7 linked regions of the Homo sapiens genome follow. The protein of the gene in region 5 interacts with the protein of the main gene of each other region in a biochemical or structural test. Each region holds a gene or a part of one and is shown on either strand. Other genes may lie near its edges.

Region 1 (3,500 bases), about 130 Mb from region 5:
CAGTGAGCCGAGATCACGCCACTGCACTCCAGCCTGGTGACAGAGTGAGACTCTGCCTCAAAAAAAAAAAAAAAAAAAAATTGGCCAGGCGTGGTGGCTCATGCCTGTAATACTAGCACTTTGGGAGGCTGAGGAAGGCGGATCACCTGAAGTCAGGAGTTTGAGACCAGCCTGACCAACATGGAGAAACCCTGTCTCTACTAAAAATACAAAATTAGCTAGGCGTGGTGGCGTGGGCCTGTAATCCCAGTTACTCGTGAGGCCGAGGCAGGAGAATCACTTGAACCCGGGAGGCAGAGGTTGTGATGAGCCGAGATTGCACCATTGCACTCCAGTCTGGGCAACGAGAGTGAAACTCCGTCTCAAAAAAGAAAAAAATATATATACAAAAATTAGCCAGGCGTGGTGGCATGTGCCTGTAATCCCAGCTACTCAGGAGGCTGAGGCAGGAGAATTGCCTGAACCTGCGGAGCGGAGGTTGCAGTGAGCCGAGATCACACCACTGCCCTCCAGTCTGAGCGATAGAGTGAGACTCCATCTCGGGAAAGAAAAAAAAAAAAAAAAAAAAAAGAACAGGCTTTTGGACATGGCTGCCTAGGTTCATTTTGGGCAGTGTGTTTCAACTAAGTTTATCACAATATTGATTACCCCTTGACTGAGACCTCTCATGTGTCCTTTGACTTTTTTTTAATGGGACAGGGTCTCACTCTGTCACCCAAGCTGGAGTGCAGTGGTGTGATCTTGGCTCACTGCAACCTTTGCCTCCCAGGTTCAAGCGATTCTAGTGCCTCAGCCTCCTGAGTAGCTGGGATTACAGACACACCAAACCTGGCTCATTTTTTTTGTATTTTTAGTAGAGACAGGGTTTCACCATGTTGGCCAGGCTGGTCTTGAGCTCCTGACCTCAAATGATCCACCCACCTTGGCCTCCCAAAGTGCTGGGATTACAGGCATGAGCCACCGCACCCAGCCTTGACTTTTATTAAAAGGAGAGGTGGAAGGCTAGGGAGTGCTTACTAAGACCAGACAAAATGTCTGAGCAATACACACAATGCAAAACTAAAGGCTTTTTTGGTCCATGTACTGGATTGGCAGTTTCCTCTCCAGCCTCATAGTCCCAAAGCCTTCACTAGTCCATCCATCTAGTATGAATTCTATTCATTCGTCACTGCCATTCCAGAATTGATGCTCACAGCTGCTTATCTTAGGAGATCTGGCCAATGTACTCCTCCTGCATGTCTTTCCGGAGTCTTGTTCAGGACACAATCCTTGGCCCTTGCTACAAGTAGAAGCTGCAGCTGCCTTCCAACACACCTTCTATGTCAGCACACAGGGCTGCAGGAGCTGGTCCCCTTCTTCTGTTTTAATTTTTGTGTTTTCCTCATTAGACATGACAAGGACCACACCGGAGTTAACTATTTTGGTCACCTTACATTTTCTTTTTTCTTTTTTTTTTTTTCTGAGATGGAGTTTCGCTCTCATCGCCCAGGCTGGAGTATGGTGGCGCGATCTCGGCTCACTGCAATCTCCACCTCCTGGGTTCAAGCAATTCTTGTGCCTCAACCTCCTGAGTAGCTGGGACTATAGGTGTGCATACCAGCATACCCAGATAATTTTTGTATTTTAGTAGAGATGGGGTTTTCCCATGTTGGCCAGGCTGGTCTCGAACTCTTGACCTCAAGTGATCCACTCGCCTCAGCTTTCCAAAGTGCTAGGATTACAGGTATGAGCCACAGCACCCAGCTTACCTTACATTTTCAAACCACCTCTACACTTTAGTTCAGGCAAACAGTTTCTCCTTCCCAGGGTCCCCTTCCTCAAACATTTTTGGTCTAGAGAAATCCACTCATCCTCCAAGGCTTCCCGCTCCTTAGGTGTCCCCTTGGCCTCTGGGCCCACCCTCTACAAGACTACACCACCACTCCCAGCTCCCCAGCGCGTCGGATATCCACGCACACCAGTCACAGCACCGGCTGCACCACACTGTCGGGTATGCTTAGCCTCTCCTGCCCAGCCTGTGAGCCCTTCACAGCAGGGACCCAGGCTTTTCATCTTTCTCCTCCCTCTGAAGCTGCCACCATACCTCCTGGGGGATGACTTCCACACCCACCAGGCTGGCCTTAGGATACCAAAGCCACCCATAACGTCCTTAAGGCTGACGCCTCCTACTGCCCCCACTACCTCCCCAGCTAGGATTTGGCTCTGACTGGGATCAGAGGTGCACACCACCACACCCAGCTCATTTCTTTGTATTTTTAGTAGAGACGGGGTTTCAACATGTTGGTCAGGTCTTGAACTCCTGACCTCAAATGACCCGCCCACCTCAGCCTCCCAAAGTGCTGGGATTACAGGTGTGAGCCACCGCGCCCGGCCTTGACTTATTTAAAGAGAGACTTGGCTATGACTCTGCCGGGTCAGTGGTCACACTGGTTCCCAGGCCAAGTGGTCAGTATCCAACCCAAAGCCCACTACCAACCATCTTCACACCCTTTGTAAGTCCCCAGAACTCTAACCTTGGCTCGGGGCTCCCTTCTGAACCTCTCTGCCATCCAGCTCTGTGGCCCTGCCTGGACTCACCCTCTCTTGCCTAGCCCAGCTGCCTCCCTGGGCTCCCTGCCTCTTCACTCACGCCCTTCTCTCAGGCCCCTGAGTTAGGGGCCACAGAGGTCTCCCCCAGACTCTTCTAGCATCAACAGTCAGAATGCCTCTGCTTGACCAGCTTGGTAGTTGAGGGCCCCGCCCCCTGACAAACACATTGCATTTACCCTATTACCACCTTCCAGACCTTCACAGCCAGTCACTAGCACTTGGCTTAGGGGGAGGAGGATTGGCTGGCGAGGGATAGCTGAGAAATAGGCCTGTTTCTCCACCTTTGAACTAGGTGCTCCTGAAGACAGAGCTGTCTCCCTTGCCAGACCCAAGGCCCTTGAAGTCTGGGCTGCCTCCCTCAGCCAAGCCTGGGTTCTGCACAGGGAGGTGTCCCCACTCACCTTTCAGCGTTGCCTTCTTCAGCACCTTCATAGCATACAGGTGCCCACTGTCAGGCCGGGTGACTTTCCGCACCAGGAAGACCTGAGAAGGCAGAGCAGGAAGCAGGGCAGAAGATGGGAGAGGTCTGAGTCCAGGCTGACCTCTATCTTCTCTGAGCCCCAAGCTGACCTTTTTGCTCTCCCTGGGTACCAAGGTGACCTCTGATCCTTTGGGCCCCTAGGTGACCCTTGACCCCCACCTCTAACATGACGAGTGTTGCCTTCACAGCTATGGGCTCATGACTCACTTTGCCAAAGGATCCCTGGCCCAGAACCTTGAGGAGCTCGAAATGGGATGGATCAGCCTTCTCAGAGCCAGCCTTGACGTGGTGCGTGATGGAGATCTCCTTGAGGACGCCCTCATCCTGATGGAGGGACAGAGCTGGTGGGCATGGTGGGCCCCATCCAGGCAGCAGGAGGCTCCCCTGCCCAAGTCCATTCCCACCAGACCACAGCAGATGGAACCTAAAG
Region 2 (3,500 bases), about 90 Mb from region 5:
CTTTCCATCCAGGAGCATACAATCTTTTGGGGGAGATAAGACAGAAGAAACACATAGACATACAAAGAACAGAATTAGAAAACATGCTGAGCTCAGCGAGAGAGAGAACATTTTGGATTGGGAAAGAAGAGGTGCCTGCACCTAAAACCAATTATGTCTTGAAGAGCGGATAGTGTGCGATAGAAGATGGGGCTACCCTTCAGGAAGGGGACCTGCCGAGAGAAGTGAGAAAGAGAGAATAGGCAGGACTCTTTTTTAGAGCCGGACACTTAGTCACTAAACAATCTTTGTTACATAAAATACTTAAATCAGCTTGCTTGGGACTTTTTCTTTCTTGGCTTCACTAATGCTCTTGGTGAAACATCTTTTTCCTTTTTCTTTTTTAATCAAATCTAATGCTCATGAAATTTTGTAGAAGAAAAAGAAAAACGTTCTCCCTTTCTGAGATAGAGGGTTTGTTTTGTTTTTGTAAACAAGATAACAGGGAAGAGTGCTCTACTGTTTTGGAAAGAGTGACTCATTCAATAAATATTTATTGAGCACCTATTAGGTTCTCGGTACTACGGATACAACAGTGAATTGAACAAAGTTTCTGCTCTACAGAGCTGTGGGGTTCTCGTTGAGCCTGACAGATGATAAACGTGTCAAATGAAGATAAGTTCTCTGAAGAAAAATAAAACCCAGTAAAGGGGACAGCATTAGAGGATGGGCTGCTCTTTTTAGTGCAGCAATTGGGATGTCTGATAAACCTCATGAGAGCAGAGACCTGAATGAAGTGAAGGAGTGAGCCATGCAGATATCCGTGAAAAGACTTCCAGACAGAGGAAGAGTTAGATGGAAAGGATAAACACATATAATCATTTAATGTTATAAAATTATGCCTCAGGTAAATAAATGTAGCATACATTTTATCGTACAAAGGGTCCCAATATACTATGACATTTTGCATATAGATTATAAGTATTATTCTATTATAAATTTATCTTGGGATAATAAGATGTGTAATCAACATTGATCAAATATTTAACAATAATTTTTTTCTCTCTTGGACTCTAGGGTAGGGAAAACTTTTCATCTACCCTCCTAGGTTATATACTGGGGGCTTGCAAATTAAATGTAAAAGACAAATGAGCAACAAAAAGACATTTGTGGGAGTTTACAGAAAAATGTGACAGGAGGCAGTTAGACTTGGGGGCCTATACATCATCTCAGTAGGGGAAGGCGGAAGAGGAGAAGAGCATTTGCTGGAAACCACGACTTTAGGAGAGATAAATCAGCCCTTAAGAGACTAGATAGGAGATGTGGTAGTTTTATGCCAGTGTCTATTTAGTTATGGTAATGAGTCGATCTTCCCTGGTTGTGAAACTCCAGAGTTCCTTTGGGGCACACTGCTTTTAAGACAGATGAAGGAGTTTAGTAAAAAGCCTATTTTTAAATGACTGGCTCAAAATAATTTTTATGTCACAGTGGTGTAGTCTGGACCCCTTTAGACTTTAGAAGAGCTTTCAGCAGATTGATTTGAGTGAGCTACACTTCTAAGAAAGTGAAGCAGGAAAGTTTGAACTGATCCCTTTATTCTCCTCCAAGTTCCCTTGAGGCCCACACAGACATAGCCAGTTATTCTGCTGACTTTGAAGCTGTGCTCACAGTTGGGATCCACCTTTGAAAAATGGCTCCTGAGTGTGTTAAGTAAGTAATGGCTAGCCGAGGGCTTCAGTTGGGAGGACTGCGGAGAAGACTTTTCTCCCCTGGGGTCCTCAAAGGGGAAAGAAATCACAAGGGGGCAGCATAGGGAGTTGTTTGGAAAGGGTGAGAAGGCTGTGCTTAGTGTTGGGATACGCGGATGGATGTAAGCTGGGTTTTGTTTTGTTTAGTTTTTTAAACTTCAGCTGTTGGAAGTCCTCCTTCCCATAGCTTCTCCAAATCACCACTGAGCTGATTCCCCAAGGCATAAAGACAGCCCTGAATTAACACAGTGGGGAATGCTAATTAAGTCATGCCAATAAAGATTTAATCATGAATCAGAAACACTTGGAAAATTATGTTTTCATATTGGAAAGATGTTCTTTTTTTCTCTATGAGTACCCCAAAGTGTTTTTGAAGGATGAAATGCGATAGGTGGTAGGACAGAAATATTTGGTTGACTTGTCCAGTATGCTAATGGTGTTGGAACAGGGACTCCAGTCTTCTGATATTTCATCTGGTTGGTCTTTTCCATAAATAAATATATCCCAGAGCAAGTAGTTCTGGGGATTGTTATAATATGCTGGTTAATAGCATGGAGAAACTGGCTTGGGCAATGTTAAGTAGGAGTTTCAGAGCTTTTAATATATGAGTACTGAGAGTTTGTAAAAGGACCCCAAACAGAAGAATTTTGGGAAATACCAATCTATACCATGCTGGGTTGATAGGACCATCTATATTATACAAGAATCTTCTCAGATTTAAGTTTCTTCTTTTTAAACTGCCATTAAGGGCATGCAGGGAAGGTGAAATTTTGTTTTAATATCCATGTATACCATATGGCTTATTTTGGCAACTAATATATGAATTTGTTCTTGGCTGCTTTGAGTGTGATTGATTCAGCCCAATAAGTATTTTCTAACCAGGTCACCACATGTAGAGTTATGAGGTAAGTGACAAAAGTCCTTCTGACCAAATATTAGTCCTGTATGTTGTACTCCAATGTGCTCACAAGTGAATTGAAATGTTGCTCAAGAGTGAATTGAAATGGCTACTACATTGTGTGAGTCCGGAGGGCTTAATCTGCATGGTGTCATAGCCATTTGGGGGCTAAACCGACAAGTGTGAGGATTGTAAACTGGCAGGGAGCTCAAAATGAGCTGATTGGTGAAACTTCATGGTGATCTCGTAGGTTGCAGCAGAGAACAATACAGGCCCAGTCCTCACATGCTTGGGACTTAAGGTGAAGGTTTGTGTTGGAGGCTAGGTGGGTTACGGACAAGCAGAGAACTGCCACAAGGTGCTGTCAGCACTGGGATGGAGGTGAGCAAAGGAGGCTAGGAAAGCATAAAGGAGGCGTGCCTGGTTCCAGCAGAGGGAGTAGGGAAGTGACAACTAAAACCAGACCTGAAGGTGAAGAGCAGAGAGGAATGTTCCAGGCAGAACCATAGGTGAGAGAATTTGGCATGTTTAAGAGAAAGCTCCCCTCACTGCCCCCCAACTCCGTATTTTTGTTTCATACTCTGCAAGGAGCAACTGCACTAAAAATGTACCTCATGTTTTCTATTTTACAAGTTACTGCCACATGCATGGCCTTATTTCCTGTCTACAACAAACCTTTCAGGTGTCCCAGGTCACAAAGTCAGGAAAAGAGCCTGGGAACTGCCCCCACTCTTCCTAGAATGTAAGGGGTGTTGGGCCATGTTCCAAATACCAGGTTCCCACTGAGAGTGGCTGAGGATAATGCTAATCTGGGCAGTTTTAAGCAGGAAATGAGTATGTGGAGTAGGGAAGTGCGGAGATCTTGCTATGTAAGT
Region 3 (3,500 bases), on a different chromosome or scaffold from region 5:
TGGTCACCTTTCTGGGACTCCACATGCAAAAGGGCCTTTAGGATTCCATGCTAAGAGACCATTCATCTCCTTTGGAAGACTAGTTTAGATCCTAAAATTAGACCTATGAAACTTCTAGCATGCTTCCTCTTTTCACTCTGGCTGCCAGGAAGCTGAGTTTGATGCTCAAACATAATAACCGTAAAAATGTTCATATCGACACACAGGCTTCCTCTTTATTTCCTCCAATGGCTGCGATTTTTCTCTTACGTATATTCTTTTGTTTGTAAACTTATCTAAATGGTTCTTTCAAAAAGAGGTAGGGAATCATATGTGCTCTACACATGCTTGGGTTTATAATTTATGGAAGGTGGCAGGCCTGGTGGCTCACGCCTGTAATCCCAGCACTTTGGGAGGCTGAGGTGGGTGGATTGCTTGAGTCCAGGAGGTTGAGACCAACCTGGGCAACATGGTAAAACCCCATCTCTACAAAAATTACAGAAAAATTAGCCAGGTATAGTGGTACATGCCTGTAGTCCCAACTACTAGGGAGGCTGAGGTGGGATGATTGCTTAAACCTGGGAGGTGAAGGTTGCAGTGAACTGAGATCATGCCATAGCACTCAGCCTAGGTGACAGAGTGAAACCCCATCTTAAAAACAAAAAAAGGCCAGGTGCAGTGGCTCATGCCTGTAATCCAAGTACTTTGGGAGGCAAGGTGGGTGGATCACTTGAGGTCAGGAGTTTGAGACCAGCCTGGCCAACAGGTGAAATCCTATCTCTACTAAAAATACAAAAATTAGCTGGGCGTGATGGTAGAAGCCTGTAATCCCAGCTACTCGGAGGCTGAGGCACAAGAATCACTTGAACCTGGGAGGCGGAGGTTACCGTGAGCAGAGATTGTGCCACTGCATTCCAGCCTGAGTGATAGAATGAGACTCTATCTAAAAAAAGGCCAAAATTATAATTTATGGAAGGAATAGATTTCAGGCGTCTGTGCTCCCCACTTCCACTTGTTCAGGGCCCCGTTATAGACCTGGGTGGGATGGATCCATAGCAAGGTGATCTCCTAGGACACGGTGGTGGGACCATCTGTCCCCAGCTGTTTCTATTACCAAGAGTCTTTCCAGGCTGAGGGAGTGGGTCTGGGGGCCACACCCCTCAACCAGAAGGTGTGGGCCTGAGCAAGAAGATGACATGTGACAGAGGCTCAGATGGCTGAGCCAGGAGCTGCATAGAGCAAGAAGACCTAGGCTGCTGGGGCCTCTAGGAGCAGGGTGGGGGCCCCTTTGGAGCCCACCCCAGGAGGCTGGGCAGTTGCTCTTCTTTGGGTACCTCTGGGCTTCTCCATTCCATTTCTTGTTAGCTCCATAATGGGGCTAGGGAGGGGACATGACTCTTTGCTCCAGATGCCTCTAGGGCCAGAAGGCTTGCCCCATCCATTTGGTTGGCCCTCTCTGATCTTTTTGGGAAATTGCCACTTGTGAGGTTCTGCGGGGAGTGGATCTCTCTAGCACTGTTGTGCCTTGGTGAGTTGTAAACATTGGATAAGGTTAGTCGATTCGTCCAATTATGAGAACATGCTGCACATGAAGGCAAGGTCAGGAGTTGAACCTATAGGGGCATCGCATCTCTCCAAGGCCACAGCCTCTCTGGCCTATTACAACCTTCGTCACAGGGGCAGCAGGGAAGAGGGCAGCCTGAGCCTCACAAGTGGCTAAGTGCCCCTTTGCACATAGAGGCCAGCCCCATGGTCTTAAAGGGTACTATCCACATTCCACTCCCTGCTCTGCAGGCTCCCTCCCTCCCCAAATGCCATACTCAGCCTTTGCTCCGGGAACAGCTTGATTGAGGAATGCATTCGTGTCATTGGCATCACCCGTGCCCACGGCGTAGCCTGTGAGGTTTCTGTTAAACTCCCGAAGGATATCTGGAAGAGAAGGTGAATGGGATGCAGACGGCTCAGAACAGAAAGCCAGAATAGCTTCTCTGGTACTGTGGGACCTAGGTCCCCAAAGTGGGCTGTGTTATCATCCTCATGCTTCCTGGGGAGAGGCAGGGAGGCAGTGTGTGTCCTGGACATAAGCTGGGACCACCCTAAGTTGACATGACCTGATGACTAGGTGGGCCAGGGTGGCAAGAGCCTCTCACTCTTGTATTAAATTGTATTAATACAATTCACAGTGCATTGAAGGGTCACTACCTAATTTGTCTCAGCACCTCCTGGGCCTGTTGGAAAAGCCTGAGGCTAAAAATAGCGGGTAACTTGCCCTAGGTCACCTGACAAGCACATCGGAGATTGAACCCAGCACCAGGGATTGAAGCACCAGGGATTGAACTCAGATCTTCAGGCTCTAAATCTGGTGTTTATTTTACCTGCCTCGGCTGCTTTTTCATAGCCTCCTGTCTCCTACTTAAATGCTGGGCCATAAGGCAGATGTCATTTGCTGCTTACCTGGGAGGCACTTTCGGGAAGCCAAGGGGCCAGATGGGTGGAACAGTAGACAGATTCAAGCCCCTGATGGTTACTTACTAGGTAAGGTGGTCACATTCTCCAGGGAGCCGTCCCCTCCTGCACTGTAGGGAGTGAGCAAGCCAGTGAATGAGAGGGAGAGACATATTGGTTGAATCAATCTAGGAACTTTACACAAGAGCAGCCCCCACCCTTCTTAGTGCCCATCGGCACCTTTGAGATGGGCCAGACCCATCTCTGAGTTTGAGGAATTCTGAGAAAATTTTTAAGCCCCTAACATATTGGTTCCCTACCGAATCCAGGATTTGAAGATGAGAGAGCTGTTTCTTTACCAGATCAGGAGGGAGAATGCTTAGCTGAGTATATACTATGTGCCCAGACATGCACTAGATTCTGTGATTTCACATCTCCCAACAAGCCAGTGATGTAGATGTGACTATGTCCATTTTACAGAGTAAGAAAATGAGGTGCACAGAGGTTAATTAACTTGTTAAAAGTCATTGAAACCCAATTTGAGCTGGAAGCCTTTGGAAAATAGATAAGCTCTTCTCTGCTCAGCAGTCAGGTAAATTCCAATAGAAGGTTCAGAAGGGTGGCTGCTCACTACCTTTCAATGCCCCATCTAATTTTCATTTAATCTAACTTCAAGGTACACCCTATTTTGTTTCCTTTTATGCATTTATTAATAAATTGAGTAGGACACACAGAAGACAAGTACTATTTCTATTTTACCAAAATCTGATATTCATATATATGGTATTTACTGTTCTTTTTCTTCTGTGTCTCTTTTTCGAATCCCAGCATGTTATATTCCAGGTCAATGGATTTTTTTTTTTTTTTTTTTCGAGACGGAGTCTTGCTCTGTCGCCCAGGCTGGAGTGCAGTGGTGTGATCTCCACTCAATGCAAGCTCCGCCTCCCGGGTTCATGCCATTCTCCTGCCTCAGCCTCCCGAGTAGCTGGGACTACAGGTACCCGCCACCATGCCCAGCTAATTTTTTCTGTTTTTTAGTAGAGATGGGGTTCCACCGTGTTAGCCAGGATGGTCTC
Region 4 (3,500 bases), on a different chromosome or scaffold from region 5:
ACTCCACGCCTCTGTCACACAGAAGCCCCGCCCTTCACCGACCACTCTCTGGTCTCTGGGCCCTGGCGCCTTTCACAGGTGGCGTCATTCTTACAAGCACAGCAGCCCCTTCCAGTGCCGCCCTGTCCTGAGATGACCTCCTCTTACACACAGCACCCCCAACCTTCCCCAGGTCTGCATTCCCTGCCCCAGGCCCCTTTCAGCAAGACACCAGGGTAGGGGCCCCAGGGCAGAGGCCTTCATTGTACAGGGGTGAGTGGTGACCCTCGTCCAACCTCATCCTGCAGCTTCAAAGACTTCTATGAGCTGGAGCCTCATAAGTTCCAGAATAAGACCAACGGCATCACCCCTCGGCGCTGGCTGGTTCTGTGTAACCCCGGGCTGGCAGAGGTCATTGCTGAGGTGAGAGGCCACCGTAGGGCCAGTAGAGTCAACATGGGTCCCTGCAGGGATCAGCTGGGTATGGTCGTGTAGGTGGTTCACTGCATCAGGGCTCCCAGCTGAAGGCTGAAATCCCTCCTGCACTGTGTTCCCCAAGCCTCGCATCCACCTGGAGGAGGGACACCATCTTAATTGCATGAGGGTGCTCTGTGTGCTAATGGAGGCCCTGGCTGTGGAGGTGAACACAGCAGAGGGAGTCATCCATGGGTCACATCTGAAGTGAGCCTGGAAGGGGGCAGATATCTGGTAGGGAAGGCGCAAGGTCATGCTGGCGTTAGGAAAAGGCCAGGAAGCCAGGAAGGCCTGCTGGGGTCAGGTGGGGTCAGCCATCAGAGCTCAAGGACGGGAGGGGAGGAAGGTGCATGGATGCCCCGTGCCCCATCTGGGCGGCTGGAGGAGGAGGGGCTGGGAGGGCCCCCAGAGCAGCCTGCTGGGTGAAGGGGGCTTGGCTGACCTGGAAATGGCCCCTTCTGTGTTGGGAGGAGGGAGGACATGGGGATGGGCTTGGCTGAGAGCCGTCTTCCCATAGCGCATCGGGGAGGACTTCATCTCTGACCTGGACCAGCTGCGCAAACTGCTCTCCTTTGTGGATGATGAAGCTTTCATTCGGGATGTGGCCAAAGTGAAGCAGGTGGGGAGAGATGCAATGTGGGACAGCTGTGCTGTGTGGAGAGCGCTGGAGGGGCCAGATGTCTGGGTCAGGCGTGGCAAATAGAGCTCATCTCTCCTGCCAGCCCAGGCCGTTGGTGGAAGTTGCCTGGAGTCTGTGGTGGGAAGGCATCATCTGACCTCACATGAACAGTGCTGACATTGATTAGCAATGTCTGCCCTGGTACAGGAGTGGACAGAAGTAGCCAGTGAGCCTCCTGGTAGCCATCCTCCTGGGGCTGACTGGAGTGTGGACTGTAGGATTTCCTGAGGCTGTGGCCTGTTGGTGAGCCCTTCCCCGTCTCTGCCTCCAGGAAAACAAGTTGAAGTTTGCTGCCTACCTAGAGAGGGAATACAAAGTCCACATCAACCCCAACTCACTCTTCGACATCCAGGTGAAGCGGATTCACGAATATAAACGACAGCTCCTCAACTGCCTCCATGTCATCACCCTGTACAACCGTGAGTGGCAGCCACTCTACCCTGTCTCTCAGTGCTCCCCCGTGTTCCTGCGGCATAGTACATATTGCCCAACCAACATCTCCTTTGGACTTGGGACTACTCTTGGGACATGGAATTATCCCCATTTCACAGATGGGCAAACTGAGGCTAAGAGAGCATAGCAAGTGATTGTTCGAGTCAGGCCTACGGTGTCCCAGCCCAGCCTCTGTCAGGAGCTACTACCCAGAGGGAAAGGTAGGCCCACTGGATCCCTCTCGTTTCTCCACAGGCATCAAGAGGGAGCCCAATAAGTTTTTTGTGCCTCGGACTGTGATGATTGGAGGGAAGGTGAGAAGCCAGGCTCCAGCCCTGGGCTCCCGTCCTTTGATATATCCAGGTTGAGGTCAGCCCAGCTGAGTTGCAGGATAGGGGGTGGGGGGCCAGGCAGTAGAGCTGACCCCAGACTTTGTCCCCTCAGGCTGCACCTGGGTACCACATGGCCAAGATGATCATCAGACTCGTCACAGCCATCGGGGATGTGGTCAACCATGACCCGGCAGTGGGTGACCGCCTCCGTGTCATCTTCCTGGAGAACTACCGAGTCTCACTGGCCGAGAAAGGTGGGTGCTGCCAACAGGGACCCTAGGGAGGCTCTGACTAGTTCAGTCTCAGGAAGAGGTATCAGTCGTCTCTTCCTGGGATACTTGTACTTGAAAGAAGAATCTGGAGAGGGCAATGCTTAAACCATGAGGAGGCCAGGCGCAGTGGCCCATGCCTGTAATCCCAGCACTTTGGGAGGCCAAGGTGGGTGGATCACCTGAGGTCAGGAGTTCGAGACCAGCCTGGCCAACATGGTGAAACCCCGTCTCTACTAAAAATACAAAAATTAGCTGGGCGTGATGGCAGGTGCCTATAATCCCAGCTACTTGGGAGGCTGAAGCAGGAGAATCACTTGAACCTGGGAGGCGGAGGTTGCAGTGAGCCGAGATCACGCCATTGCACTTCAGCCTGGGCAACAAAAGCAAAACTCCGTCTCAAAAAACAAGAGGAAACAAAACAAAGCAAAAACCCCATGAGGATGCCCTCTAATGGTGGAATTTCAGGCAGTACAGGGTGAAATTACCTTCAAATCTGCAACAGAGGTGGGGAAATCCAGGTTGGACCTAGATGGTCAAGAATCAACAAGAGGTAGAGGGCAGTGGGGGTGCGGTGTGAGAGGGAGGCTTGGCTGGTGAAGACTGGGAGTTTGGGGTGGGGCGACTCTGAGTCCAGCTATGCCTGGGGCCAGCCTAATCTGAGAGTCCCCAGCTGGTGTGAGGGTCTTCCCTGAGTTGACTTGTCCCCCTGCTGCCACCCCACAGTGATCCCAGCTGCAGACCTCTCTGAGCAGATCTCCACTGCGGGCACTGAAGCCTCAGGCACCGGCAACATGAAGTTCATGCTCAACGGGGCTCTGACCATTGGCACCATGGACGGGGCCAATGTGGAGATGGCAGAAGAGGCGGGAGAGGAAAACTTCTTCATCTTTGGCATGCGGGTGGAGGATGTGGATAAGCTTGACCAAAGAGGGTATGGGGGTCAGGGTTCACGGGCAAAAGACACCCAGGTGTGGCTGCTGGAGAGTGGTGCTGGGAGCAAGCGGCACGTCTGGAAAGACTGGTCCAGGCCCAGCAAGGTCTTGGTCATGGCCAGCAGGATTCTGGGAAACTTTAGAGGGCGCTTACAGCAAATAAGGTTAATGAAATTGGAAAAGAAAGAAGTAATATAGAACTGAAGGAAAAGGAAGAGAATATTATATCAACCCTAAGAGATAATATTGTTTGGGAAATGGAAGTAAAAAAATCCTTGCTCTACGCCGGGTGCGGTGGCTCACACCTGTAATCCCAGCACTTTGGGAGGCCAAGGCGGGCGGATCACAAGGTCAAGAGATCCAGACCATCCTGGCTAACACGGTGAAACCCCATCTCTAC
Region 5 (4,218 bases):
CCGCCCACACACACTCTAACCGCTCCTCCCAGCAGAGAAGCACAGGGTCTGGCAAATGTCCCCTGTGGTCAGAGCTGGCTCCGTCTGAACAGACCCATTTTCTCTGCCCCGCTCCACCCTTACCTCTCCTCAGCGGCAGCAGGGCAGAGTGCTGAACCCAGGACCCCACAGATCCTCCCCGCTCCTGTCTCCCGGTGACAAGGGTCCTGGAACGGGGCGTCTCTGACTCCCTGCTCCAGGACGGGTTTAGTACAGGCACTCACAACCCCCTGGGGTGCGGCGGGTGGGGCTGGAAGAGGCATTCTCTTTTCTGTCCACCCCGTCACACACTCCTGCACGCGCTGTTGCTCGATCATCCAAAGCTCCTTCCTGAATTCCTGTCTGAGCTGGCTCTGGGGGAGGGACCTGGGAGCCCAGGAAGAAAAAATGATCTCCAGCCTCCCTCCAGGGTCAGCCATGAGACTCACCCGGCAAGGAGATGGGGTAGAGTGAGCTGGAGCCTCAGGGCTGAGGTTTATAAGCAGCGGGGAAGGAGGAGAGAGCTGCTTCCAAGCCCGGAGGTGTCAAATTTCCGTGGTCGATTCTGAAGACCAGAGACAGCCCAATCAGGCCGCTTGCCCTGAGCCCTCAGGTCTGGACCCGGGCTCCCTGCCAGCCACACGAGCGCCCCCACTTGGTCAGGGAGAGGAGCTGCCTGGACAGATCTCGTTCGGCAGGGGTCCCAGGGTCCTAGTCCTCTCAATACTGGGGGCTGCTGCCACCATACCCATGTCTAATCAGGAGTGTGTATGCTGAGGGGGGAAGAGGGAGGCAACCAATCAAGGGAGCTCAACACTGAGAGGCCCAATCTGAGACACACACAGAGGCCCCTTGGAATGAGATCCCACAAAGGATGCTACAGACCAAGATCCCTCAGAGAACCCCAGGCTGAGGCCCCACACACAGAGGGGGATCCAGGTTGAGACCCCCAGAGAAGAGTCCTGGATTGAAATCCCTCTGTGGGTTCTCAGACTCCCAAGACTAAGTTTCTCACTGAGGGTCCTCTCAGTGAGGCCCCATGGAGGAGCCACAGACTAAGACCCCCTCAGCAGAATTCCCCCCTTACCGGGCTCAACCAGCACAGCCAGCCACAGGTACTGCAAGGCCCAGCTTGGGGTAAGACATCCAGTGTCCCTCCCAGGACCTCCTTCCCACCTCTTTCCCCTGCACCATCCACTGCTGCCTGGAGAGAAAGGAACGGGGCAAGCAAGGCTGGGAAAGAGACAAGGGCCGCCTGTTCCAGCCCAGGAGACAGAGGGCGCCTCTGTCTGCTCCTGGCCCCTTGCCCCACAGGGTGTTCGTCTGTGAAGGGGTGGAGTCGGTGGGGGGGTCAGCGGGGGAGGGACTGTTGAAGACAGGTCTCCACACACAGCTCCAGCAGCCACATTTGCAACCTTGGCCATCTGTCCAGAACCTGCTCCCACCTCAGGCCCAGGCCAACCGTGAGTACCCTGCCCCACTGGGCTAGTCCCTGGCCTGCCAGCTTCAGGGAGAGGGGTCTTCAGAAGGGCTCCAAGAGGCTGGGGACCATAGCACTGTGGAGCACTGAGGATCTGGGAGGAGTCAGTCAGGGTGAGGGCAGTTTGGGATTTGGGGGAGACAGGGTTTGGAAGGTGGTGATGAGAGACAAATGAACTGAAGGTCGGAGAGAGAGCTGGCAGCTCAGCAAAGGAGGAAGCCAGTGGGGAACCCACCATGAGCTTCCTGACCGCCTGGCCCTCCCACAGGGAGCCCTCAAGTCCCTGCCAAGGCCCCCTCTGTCTCCCAGGTGTTGGGAAGGGTCCCAGCCCTCCCCTGCCTCGCCTCCTGTGGGGTAAGAAGAGAGCAGATACAACAGCTGTTTCTGCCCCCACCTCTCCTGCCAGCCTTAGTCTCTGCCACCCCCACCCTGCCTTGCCAAGAGCTCAGGTCCCGGGGGAGTCTGGGGGTGGCAGGGCAAAGCTCCCATGATATGGGGAAGCAGAGATGTAGGGTGCTGTGCCCCTTCCCAACTCGACCTCCACAGGACCTCCCCTTTCTCCTCCTCCCATTTTTGGCCCAGACCTCTTGACTCCTCTTTCCCCCCATTCTTACCTCTTTGTTTCCCCATCTCCCCTGCCCCCAAGTCCTCTCAGAACTGCCACCACGTAAAATCCCAGGCTGCTTTAGGGCTCCAGGTGACCTCCAGCTGCCCCTCTGGCATGGAGCAGGTAATCAAGCTACCAGCACCCCTCCCTCAAGCACCCCTTATCCCCTCATCAGCCACAGCTTGGGTTCCATCTCCCCCATGTCTCTGTGACAACTGCTTCTCAGGTCCGGAGTTCAGATGACACTCACAAGGGCCCCATTGAAGAACTGGGATGTCATTCGATCAGGGGCCATTGTCCAGCCCCCTAGGCCTGGGGAAGGATGGGGACATCTGATCCGAGACACCTGAGCTGCCCCCTCTGGGGTTGTGGAAGGCCAGACTGTCCCAGGGCCAAGGGAAAGAGGCCCCCCGGCTTGGCAGTCTTCTCTCTCAACAGACCACTCCTTTCTCCTTTCTTCTCCTACTCTCTCCCAGCCCCTTGAACTCAAAGGACCGCATGCTTTCAGCCCTTTCTCTCCCCCAACACACAGCAGCCCCATTCCCCTTGCTCCCACTATCCCCGAATCAACCAGGAGTGAGCAGTTGCAGGGACAACGCCTGCAGGTCTCCTCTCCCACTCCCTGGGAACTCTGGCTCCAAGGAAAAGGCTCAGACATTCCTCTCTCCCCTTCTGCCACCCACCAGATGGAAGGGATAATTTTGCAGAGGCAATGGGAGCATATCCCAAAGAAGCCAAAATGACATGTTCAGGAGAGAACAGAGTTGAAGGACCAAAAGGGGCCCCCAGCTGCTGACAGGAAACTCAGAGTCAGTGAGACCTCCCTCCCCCAGAAGGCGTACGCCACCCACTGGGGCTGCCATCCCCTCTACCAGGCTGACCGAGGGTACCAGACTGACTCCTTGCTAGGGGTGGGCAGCAGAAGGAAGGCTGTAGTGGACACCCCAGCCCACCACCCTCAACAGCAGAGCTTGGCTATGCTAGACAGGCAAGGTCCAGGGTAAAAATAGAGCCAGAGGAAGCATGGCCCAGTCCTGTGACCACCCCTGCCTGCCCCACCCTCCTCAATCCCTGCCTGGGCAGCCACTGCAGACATCTACCACAGGCCTCTGGAGCCAGCCCAGCTCCAACTGCTCTCTCTCCATGCCCCAACCCTGATTCCCTCTGGCTGGGGTACAGACTGAGGGACACAGAGAACAGGCCTGCACTTAGGTCTCTTGGGGTTTCCCTCACATTGTAAAATCTCAGGGAAAGATCAATTGCAGTAGGGCTCTAATCCCACAGCTATTTGAGCTGTCAGCCAGGGCCAGTCCTGAGGGTTCCCCTCACCTAGACCCCAGGTACTCCGGGCCTGGTCCTCAGCTCACTTCCATGATGGGGGTGGGTAGGTGCACTGCTGCAATGGGCTCTGAGCTGGAGACGGCGATGGAGACCCTCATCAACGTGTTCCACGCCCACTCGGGCAAAGAGGGGGACAAGTACAAGCTGAGCAAGAAGGAGCTGAAAGAGCTGCTGCAGACGGAGCTCTCTGGCTTCCTGGATGTGAGCATAGAGTGGTGGAGTGGGAGTGGAGTGGGTGAAGGTTGGGGGAATGGGGTGGACACCCCCTTGCTATCTCCCCACCCCACCTCCAGCTCAGCCTAGCCTCTTTCTTTCCTTTCCCAGGCTTCTCTCCTGGGTTTTTCCAGGCTCCCCTACTCCTCCTGGGTCAAGTCAAAATGCCCTGGTTTATTGATCACCTGTTAAGTGTTAGGCCCTGTGTAGATTCATCAATAATAAGACACACAGACTTAGAAGGGAAAGATTGACACTTAAAAGTAAACCATGAACTCCAGGAAATACACAGAGCCTTAACAGATGTACCAGAAAGGGTTATGAGAGATTATTAACCTGATTGAAGTCAGATGGCTTTCCTGAAGAGGTGGCACTTGAACCATGGATTTCCATTGGAAGATTATCTGGGTAAATGCAGACATTTTAGGAGGAGGTAACTGAATGAACAAAAGCATGGGAGAAAGAAGAATGTGGAGCATGTCAGTAGTTTCATTCAACTGGCATGAAGGATGTAGAAAACTAGGCTGCTAAGGCTAACCAGGGCCCCAAAGTAAAGAAG
Region 6 (3,500 bases), on a different chromosome or scaffold from region 5:
ACAGAGACCCAGAGAGATGGGGACAGAGACCCAGAGAGAGAGGGACAGAGACCCAGAGAGAGAGGGACAGAGACCCAGAGAGATGGGGACAGAGACCCAGAGAGAGAGGGACAGAGACCCAGAGACATGGGACAGAGACCCAGAGAGAGAGGGACAGAGACCCAGAGACATGGGACAGAGACCCAGAGAGATGGGACAGAGACCCAGAGAGAGAGGGACAGAGACCCAGAGAGACGGGGACAGAGACCCAGAGAGACGGGGACAAAGACCCAGAGAGAGAGGGACAGAGACCCAGAGAGAGAGGGACAGAGACCCAGAGAGATGGCGACAGAGACCCAGAGAGAGAGGGACAGAGACCCAGAGAGATGGGGACAGAAACCCAGAGTAAAGGGGAAACAGAGACCCGGAGAGACGGGGACAGAGACCCAGAGAGAGAGGGACAGAGACCCAGAGAGATGGGGACAGAAACCCAGAGTAAAGGGGAAACAGAGACCCGGAGAGACGGGGACAGAGACCCAGAGAGAGAGGGACAGAGACCCAGAGAGAGAGGGACAGAGACCCAGAGAGAGAGGGACAGAGACCCAGAGAGAGAGGGACAGAGACCCAGAGACATGGGACAGAGACCCAGAGAGATGGCGACAGAGACCCAGAGAGAGAGGGACAGAGACCCAGAGAGAGAGGGACAGAGACCCAGAGAGAGAGGGACAGAGACCCAGAGAGATGGGGACAGAAACCCAGAGTAAAGGGGAAACAGAGACCCGGAGAGACGGGGACAGAGACCCGGAGAAACAGGGACAGAGACCCAGAGAGACAAGGACAGAGACCCAGAGAAAAGGGGAAACAGAGACCCGGAGAGACAGGGACGGAGACCCGGAGAAACAGACAGAGACCCAGAGAGATGGGGACAGAGACCCAGAGAGAGGGGGAAACAGACCCAGAGAGAGGAAGACAGAGACCCAGAGAGACGGGGACAGAGACACAGAGAAAAGGGGAAACAGAGGCCCAGAGAGACAGAGACAGAGACCCAGAGAGACAGAGACAGAGACCCAGAGAGACGGGGACAGAGACACAGAGAAAAGCGGAAACACAGACCCAAAGAGATGAGGACAGTGACCCACAGAAAAGGGGAAACAGAGACCCGGAGAGACGGGGACAGAGACCCAGAGAGAGAGGGGGACAGAGACCCAGAGAGAGAGGGGGACAGAGACCCAGAGAGAGAGGGGGACAGAGACCCAGAGAGAGAGGGGGACAGAGACCCAGAGAGAGAGGGGGACAGAGACCCAGAGAGAGAGGGGGACAGAGACCCAGAGAGAGAGGGGGACAGAGACCCAGAGAGAGAGGGGGACAGAGACCCAGAGAGAGAGGGACACGGAGACAGAGGGAGACAGAGACAAAGAGACGCAGAGAGAACGGGACCCCCTCAGAGAGAAGATAGGTGGGGCGGAGGGGACAAAGAGAGCCAAGACAGGGATGGGCGGAGGGGCCAGGGTTCAGGGCGGGCGTCCCGGCTCCACTCTGGAGCCCCGAGCATGCAGCCCCCTGGTGCCCGGGCCCCGCCCACAGAGGCCCGCCTCACATTGCTGTGCTTGCGGCCGGCCCCCGTGAAGTCCAGCTCTCCGTAGGCATCGGTGGGCTTCTCCGTGGTGTGTGCATCGCTGTCCCACACGGTCACCACGGCTGCCCCGAAGGCATCCTCCATGGCCACTGCGGGGTGGGCGGTCCGGGGGCGCCCACACTGGCACAAGGTCCCTCTGGGGGTGCGAGGGCGGAGCGTGAACCCAGGGCTGCCCCCCGACCCCAGCACCCTGTCAGCGTGTTCATGCTCCTGTAGAGGGGGCTGTCGACACTGAGTCCACACCCACAGAGGCAGGCAGAGTCCACGCTGCCCCTGGCCCTGGCTCTGACGGCCTCGGGGAGAGACTGGAGCCGAGGACGGTCCCCTTTCCCCACGGGAAGGAAGCCAGTGAGTCCAGAAAGCCTGAGCAGGAAGAAGCAGGTCACTGTCACCTGAGGAGCCTCAAGTGGGAAGGCAGAGGGCCACTGGGGGTATCCTTGCTGTGCCCTGTGCCCCCATCCAAACACATGACGTTCAACACGAGAAAGAACATCCAGCGGGTAACTCAGGGAGAGCCCGCATGCTCGGGGCTGACGCGGCTGTGTGACTTTGGGCGAGCGGCTTCACCTCTCTGAGCCTAAATTTCCTCCTCTAATGAAAAGACAATAATAGCGCGGCCTACTCCACGGAGCTATGAGGAGCCAGGGAAAGAACGCCGTGTTTCCTGAAATGAGGCTCGCATACCAGTCCCAGCCAGAGGCAACGCGACACGAACTTCACACGGAGCTTAAAATAACCTTGAATAACGCAGTGAGAAAGTCATTCCTTTTTCAGTTCTCCTGACGACTGTCAAGGAGAGAGGCTCAGCCGGGTGCTAGAATATTTTTGAATGCCTAACCCTTTGCTACTCTTTTGAACAAGAAAAGCAGGCCTCGGGCTCAAAAAATGGAGCTGGCAACAGCCATCTAGCGAGTAGGGAAACACCTTTGTTTGCTTTTCATTGTCTTTGGCTTCTGTGTGGCTTGTTTCTTCCTCTCTGTGCCAAATGGAACAGGTTTCCATTTGGAAAGTTTCCACATATAAAACTTTCCCCCACCTAAAGAAATGCACAAGTCTCTCTTGCTTTCTAAAGGTGATTGGCACCTGAGTAAGTAACAGGGGTTTGGAGAATGAGAAATTCATTTGAAAATGTAGGGTCGGGTATGATGGCTCATGCCTGTAATCCTAGCACTTTGGGAGGCTGGGGCCAGAGGATCACCTGAACCCAGGAGTTCGAGACCAGCTGTGCAATATAGTCAGACCCTGTCTCTAAAAATAAATAAATAAATAAAATAAAATAAAATAAAATTAGCCAGGTGTGGCAGCATGTGCTTAGGAGGCTGAGGCAGGAGGATCACTTCAGCCTGGGAGATCAAGGCTGCAGTGATGCAGAGAGCTGTGACCACGCCACTGCACTCCAACCTGGGCAACAGAGTGAGACCCTGTTCAAAAAAAAGAAAAGAAGGAAAGAAAAGCAAGCAAGCAAGCAAGCAAGCAAGCAAGCAAGCAAGCAAGAGGCCGGGCGCAGTGGCTCATGCCTGTAATCCCAGCACTTTGGGAGGCTGAGGCGGGTGGATCATCTGAGGTCAAGAGTTTGAGACCAGACTGGCCAACATGGTGAAACACTGTCTGTACTAAAAAAAATACAAAAATTAGCTGGTCGTGGTGGCGGGTGCCTGTAATCCCAGCTACTCAGAAGGCTGAGGCAGGAGAATTGGTTGAACCCAGGAGGCAGAAGTTGCAGTGAGCCATCACACTATTGTACTCCAGCCTGGGAGACAAGAGCGAAACTCCATCTCAAAAAAAAAAAAAAAAAAAAAAAAAAAAAAAAAACTAAGGAAAGAAAGGAAGGAGGGAGGGAGAGAGACAGAGAGGGAGGAAGGAAAGGAAGGAAGGAAGGAAGGGA
Region 7 (2,385 bases), on a different chromosome or scaffold from region 5:
AAGTGTGATCATTAAGATTATTAATAGCATTTTTAGAGCTTTTTATATCAGAAATGACATAACACTTCTGGACATAGAGAAGAGTAATTCCTGTTTATGTGGTCTTTCATACTGCTTTTATTAATGCATTCTGCAGATACGTGGACAGTTCAAAGGCTGTTATTGAGACAGCAGATAGAGCCAAGCTGCAACCTATAGCTTTAAGCTGTGTACTGAATATTGGTGCTTGTAAACTGAAGATGTCAAATTGGCAGGGAGCAATTGACAGTTGTTTAGAGGTAAGTCTGTTTGATTTTGAACTTTTTGAATAAGTTGGATTAAGACTTAGTTTGAATAGTAGCAACTTTTATATACATTAATATATCTTATTGCATAGGACCTAATGAGGCTTAAGAAAACATTTTGTTTCTAAATATTTTGGACCCTCAGTTCTTTCTCTACATTCATTTTGCTTATAACTCTGTGTCACTTAACAGCTATGAAGATCCTTGCCTTTTTTTCTCAAAGCACATATATCAGCTCATGTATTCACTTAAGAGCACCTATTGTGTGTTAGGCATTAGAAGACAAAGTCAGAAATGATTAAGATGTGGGTTATGGAGTCAGTCAGGCATGGCTTTTTTCTTCTTCTTTTTTTTTTGAGACGGAGTCTTACTCTGTTGCCCAGGCTGGAGTGCAGTGGCGCAATCTCGGCTTACTGCAACCTCTGCCTCCCGGGTTCAAGTGATTCTCCTGCCTCATCCTCCCAAGTAGCTGGGATTACAGGCATGTGCCACCATGCCCAGATAATTTTTGTATTTTTAGTAGAGACAGGGTTTCACCATGTTGGCCAGGCTGGTCTCAAACTCCTGATCTCAGGTGATCCACCCGCCTTGGCCTCCCAAAGTGCTAGGATTACAGGTGTGAGCCACCGTGAAGTAGTTATAGAGAGTTATATAACACAATGTAAGGCATTTAGTGTAGTGCCTGGCACATTTTAAGCACCTAACAGAGACGAGTTATTTTAATTAAAAGATCCATACCCTCAAGAAGCTTAATAAGTGATTCAGGATAGGAGGGGGTCAGTTTCAATTTAGGTTCATCAGGACTTGTGTATGGAGAATGGGTTCTATTGGAACAGGTCATTTATCTTTAGGAGGTCATCCAGGTATGCTAACTGATAAAGCTAGAAAGGTGGCAGTTTTACCTTCCTCAAATAGAGCAATTATGACTCTCTTCCCTGTTGTATAGTTTGAAAAGTTTTCCAAATGAAACTTTAAGAATTTTACATATTAAGCCAGGCACCTAGACTAGCTATGCTCAGAGCAAGTAGAACTAAAATGAGATCCTAATTTTGTAGGGTAGATGGAATAAGGGATAGGAATATATTTAGAAGGGATCATACAACAGAGGAAAAAACTTATCAAAAGAAAAGATGGGTCTTCACTCTGGGTTTTTTTTTGTTCTCTGTCACCCATGCTGGAGTGCAGTGATGCAATCAAAGCTCACTGCAGCCTCAACCTCCTGGGCTCGGGTGATCCTCCTACCTCAGCCTCCTAAGTAGCTGGGACTACAGGCCCTTGCCACCATACCCAGCTGATTTTTAAATTTTTTGTAGAGATGGGTTTTTGACATGTTGCCCAGGCTGGTCTCTTAACTCCTGGGCTCAAGCTGTCCACCCGCCTTGGCCTCACAAAGTGCTGGTATTATAGTTAAGAGCCTCTCTGCCCAGCCTCGATCTCTTTTTGACCTGTGAGGCAGGTAAAATCTGAGTATTGGCCATTAAAAGATGTTACATAAACAAAAGATAATTTTAAAATGTTTGTTCTAGGGGAGAGACCTGATGCATAAAGTCTCTTAGGTTAAAAGACCTGTTGTAGGTAAGAACCTAGGTTGGGTATGGTGGTTCATGCCTGTAATTCCAGCACTTAGGGAGGCCACGGCGGCGGGCAGATCGCTTAATTCCAGGAGTTTGAAACCAGCCTGGGCAACATGGTGAAACCCTGTCTCTAAAAAAAAAAAAAAATTAGTCTGGTGTGGTGGCACATACCTGTAGTCCCAGCTACTTGGAGGCTGAGGTGGGAGGAGCACTTGAGCCTGGGGGGTTGAGGCAGCAGTGAGCTGTGATCAGGCCACTGCACTCCAGCCTGGGCCACAGAGTGAGACCTTGTCTTAAAAAAACAAAAAACAAAAACTTAAGAGTTTATAACTTAAGAGTTATTAAGTTATTAATGTTCCTAAAAAACTTATAATTCAAGTAAAAAGTGTATACAAATGTTTCTTCAAAATGATTTTATCTTAAAAGTGTTAGTTCAGGCCCATTCGGGAGATTGAAACCACAGTGGGGAGCATATTGGAAACTAGAGAAATGTCTTTCTCCTCCATGTCCATTCAGTGCCCTCTGCT

What was found.
Region 1: the proteins of S100A1 (region 5) and RPS6KA1 interact in a biophysical measurement, tested with the Homo sapiens proteins (one large-scale study listed by IntAct).
Region 2: the proteins of S100A1 (region 5) and PGM1 interact in far-western blotting, tested with the Homo sapiens proteins (one study listed by BioGRID).
Region 3: the proteins of S100A1 (region 5) and PLB1 form a complex in vitro, tested with the Homo sapiens proteins (one study listed by BioGRID).
Region 4: the proteins of S100A1 (region 5) and PYGM form a complex in vitro, tested with the Homo sapiens proteins (one study listed by BioGRID).
Region 6: the proteins of S100A1 (region 5) and TRPM4 interact in a biophysical measurement, tested with the Homo sapiens proteins (one large-scale study listed by IntAct).
Region 7: the proteins of S100A1 (region 5) and PPID form a complex in vitro, tested with the Homo sapiens proteins (one study listed by BioGRID).

What each region holds. Positions count from the first base shown.
Region 1 is NC_000001.11:26,546,761-26,550,260, reverse strand, and holds part of RPS6KA1 (ribosomal protein S6 kinase alpha-1), read right to left. Parts: intron 3,395-3,500; coding exon 3,278-3,394; intron 3,073-3,277; coding exon 2,991-3,072; intron 1-2,990. UniProt on the Homo sapiens protein: Serine/threonine-protein kinase that acts downstream of ERK (MAPK1/ERK2 and MAPK3/ERK1) signaling and mediates mitogenic and stress-induced activation of the transcription factors CREB1, ETV1/ER81 and NR4A1/NUR77, regulates translation through RPS6 and EIF4B phosphorylation, and mediates cellular proliferation, survival, and differentiation by modulating mTOR signaling and repressing pro-apoptotic function of BAD and DAPK1.
Region 2 is NC_000001.11:63,599,911-63,603,410, forward strand, and holds part of PGM1 (phosphoglucomutase-1), read left to right. Parts: intron 1-3,500. UniProt on the Homo sapiens protein: Catalyzes the reversible isomerization of alpha-D-glucose 1-phosphate to alpha-D-glucose 6-phosphate. The mechanism proceeds via the intermediate compound alpha-D-glucose 1,6-bisphosphate.
Region 3 is NC_000002.12:28,597,060-28,600,559, reverse strand, and holds part of PLB1 (phospholipase B1, membrane-associated isoform 1 precursor), read right to left. Parts: intron 2,556-3,500; coding exon 2,512-2,555; intron 1,909-2,511; coding exon 1,800-1,908; intron 1-1,799. UniProt on the Homo sapiens protein: Calcium-independent membrane-associated phospholipase that catalyzes complete diacylation of phospholipids by hydrolyzing both sn-1 and sn-2 fatty acyl chains attached to the glycerol backbone (phospholipase B activity).
Region 4 is NC_000011.10:64,749,975-64,753,474, reverse strand, and holds part of PYGM (glycogen phosphorylase, muscle form), read left to right. Parts: intron 1-287; coding exon 288-402; intron 403-970; coding exon 971-1,072; intron 1,073-1,403; coding exon 1,404-1,551; intron 1,552-1,819; coding exon 1,820-1,878; intron 1,879-2,008; coding exon 2,009-2,150; intron 2,151-2,891; coding exon 2,892-3,099; intron 3,100-3,500. UniProt on the Homo sapiens protein: Allosteric enzyme that catalyzes the rate-limiting step in glycogen catabolism, the phosphorolytic cleavage of glycogen to produce glucose-1-phosphate, and plays a central role in maintaining cellular and organismal glucose homeostasis.
Region 5 is NC_000001.11:153,627,016-153,631,233, forward strand, and holds the start of S100A1 (protein S100-A1), read left to right. Parts: upstream 1-1,418; 5' UTR 1,419-1,481; intron 1,482-3,493; 5' UTR 3,494-3,506; coding exon 3,507-3,647; intron 3,648-3,995; coding exon of another isoform or gene 3,996-4,063; exon of another isoform or gene 4,064-4,218. Other genes in the region: S100A13 (protein S100-A13), read right to left, coding at 515-583, 1,106-1,222, 3,996-4,063. UniProt on the Homo sapiens protein: Small calcium binding protein that plays important roles in several biological processes such as Ca(2+) homeostasis, chondrocyte biology and cardiomyocyte regulation.
Region 6 is NC_000019.10:49,164,292-49,167,791, reverse strand, and holds part of TRPM4 (transient receptor potential cation channel subfamily M member 4), read right to left. Parts: intron 1,752-3,500; coding exon 1,577-1,751; intron 1,571-1,576; exon of another isoform or gene 614-1,570; coding exon of another isoform or gene 1-613. UniProt on the Homo sapiens protein: Calcium-activated selective cation channel that mediates membrane depolarization. While it is activated by increase in intracellular Ca(2+), it is impermeable to it.
Region 7 is NC_000004.12:158,711,012-158,713,396, reverse strand, and holds part of PPID (peptidyl-prolyl cis-trans isomerase D), read left to right. Parts: intron 1-136; coding exon 137-278; intron 279-2,385. UniProt on the Homo sapiens protein: PPIase that catalyzes the cis-trans isomerization of proline imidic peptide bonds in oligopeptides and may therefore assist protein folding. Proposed to act as a co-chaperone in HSP90 complexes such as in unligated steroid receptors heterocomplexes.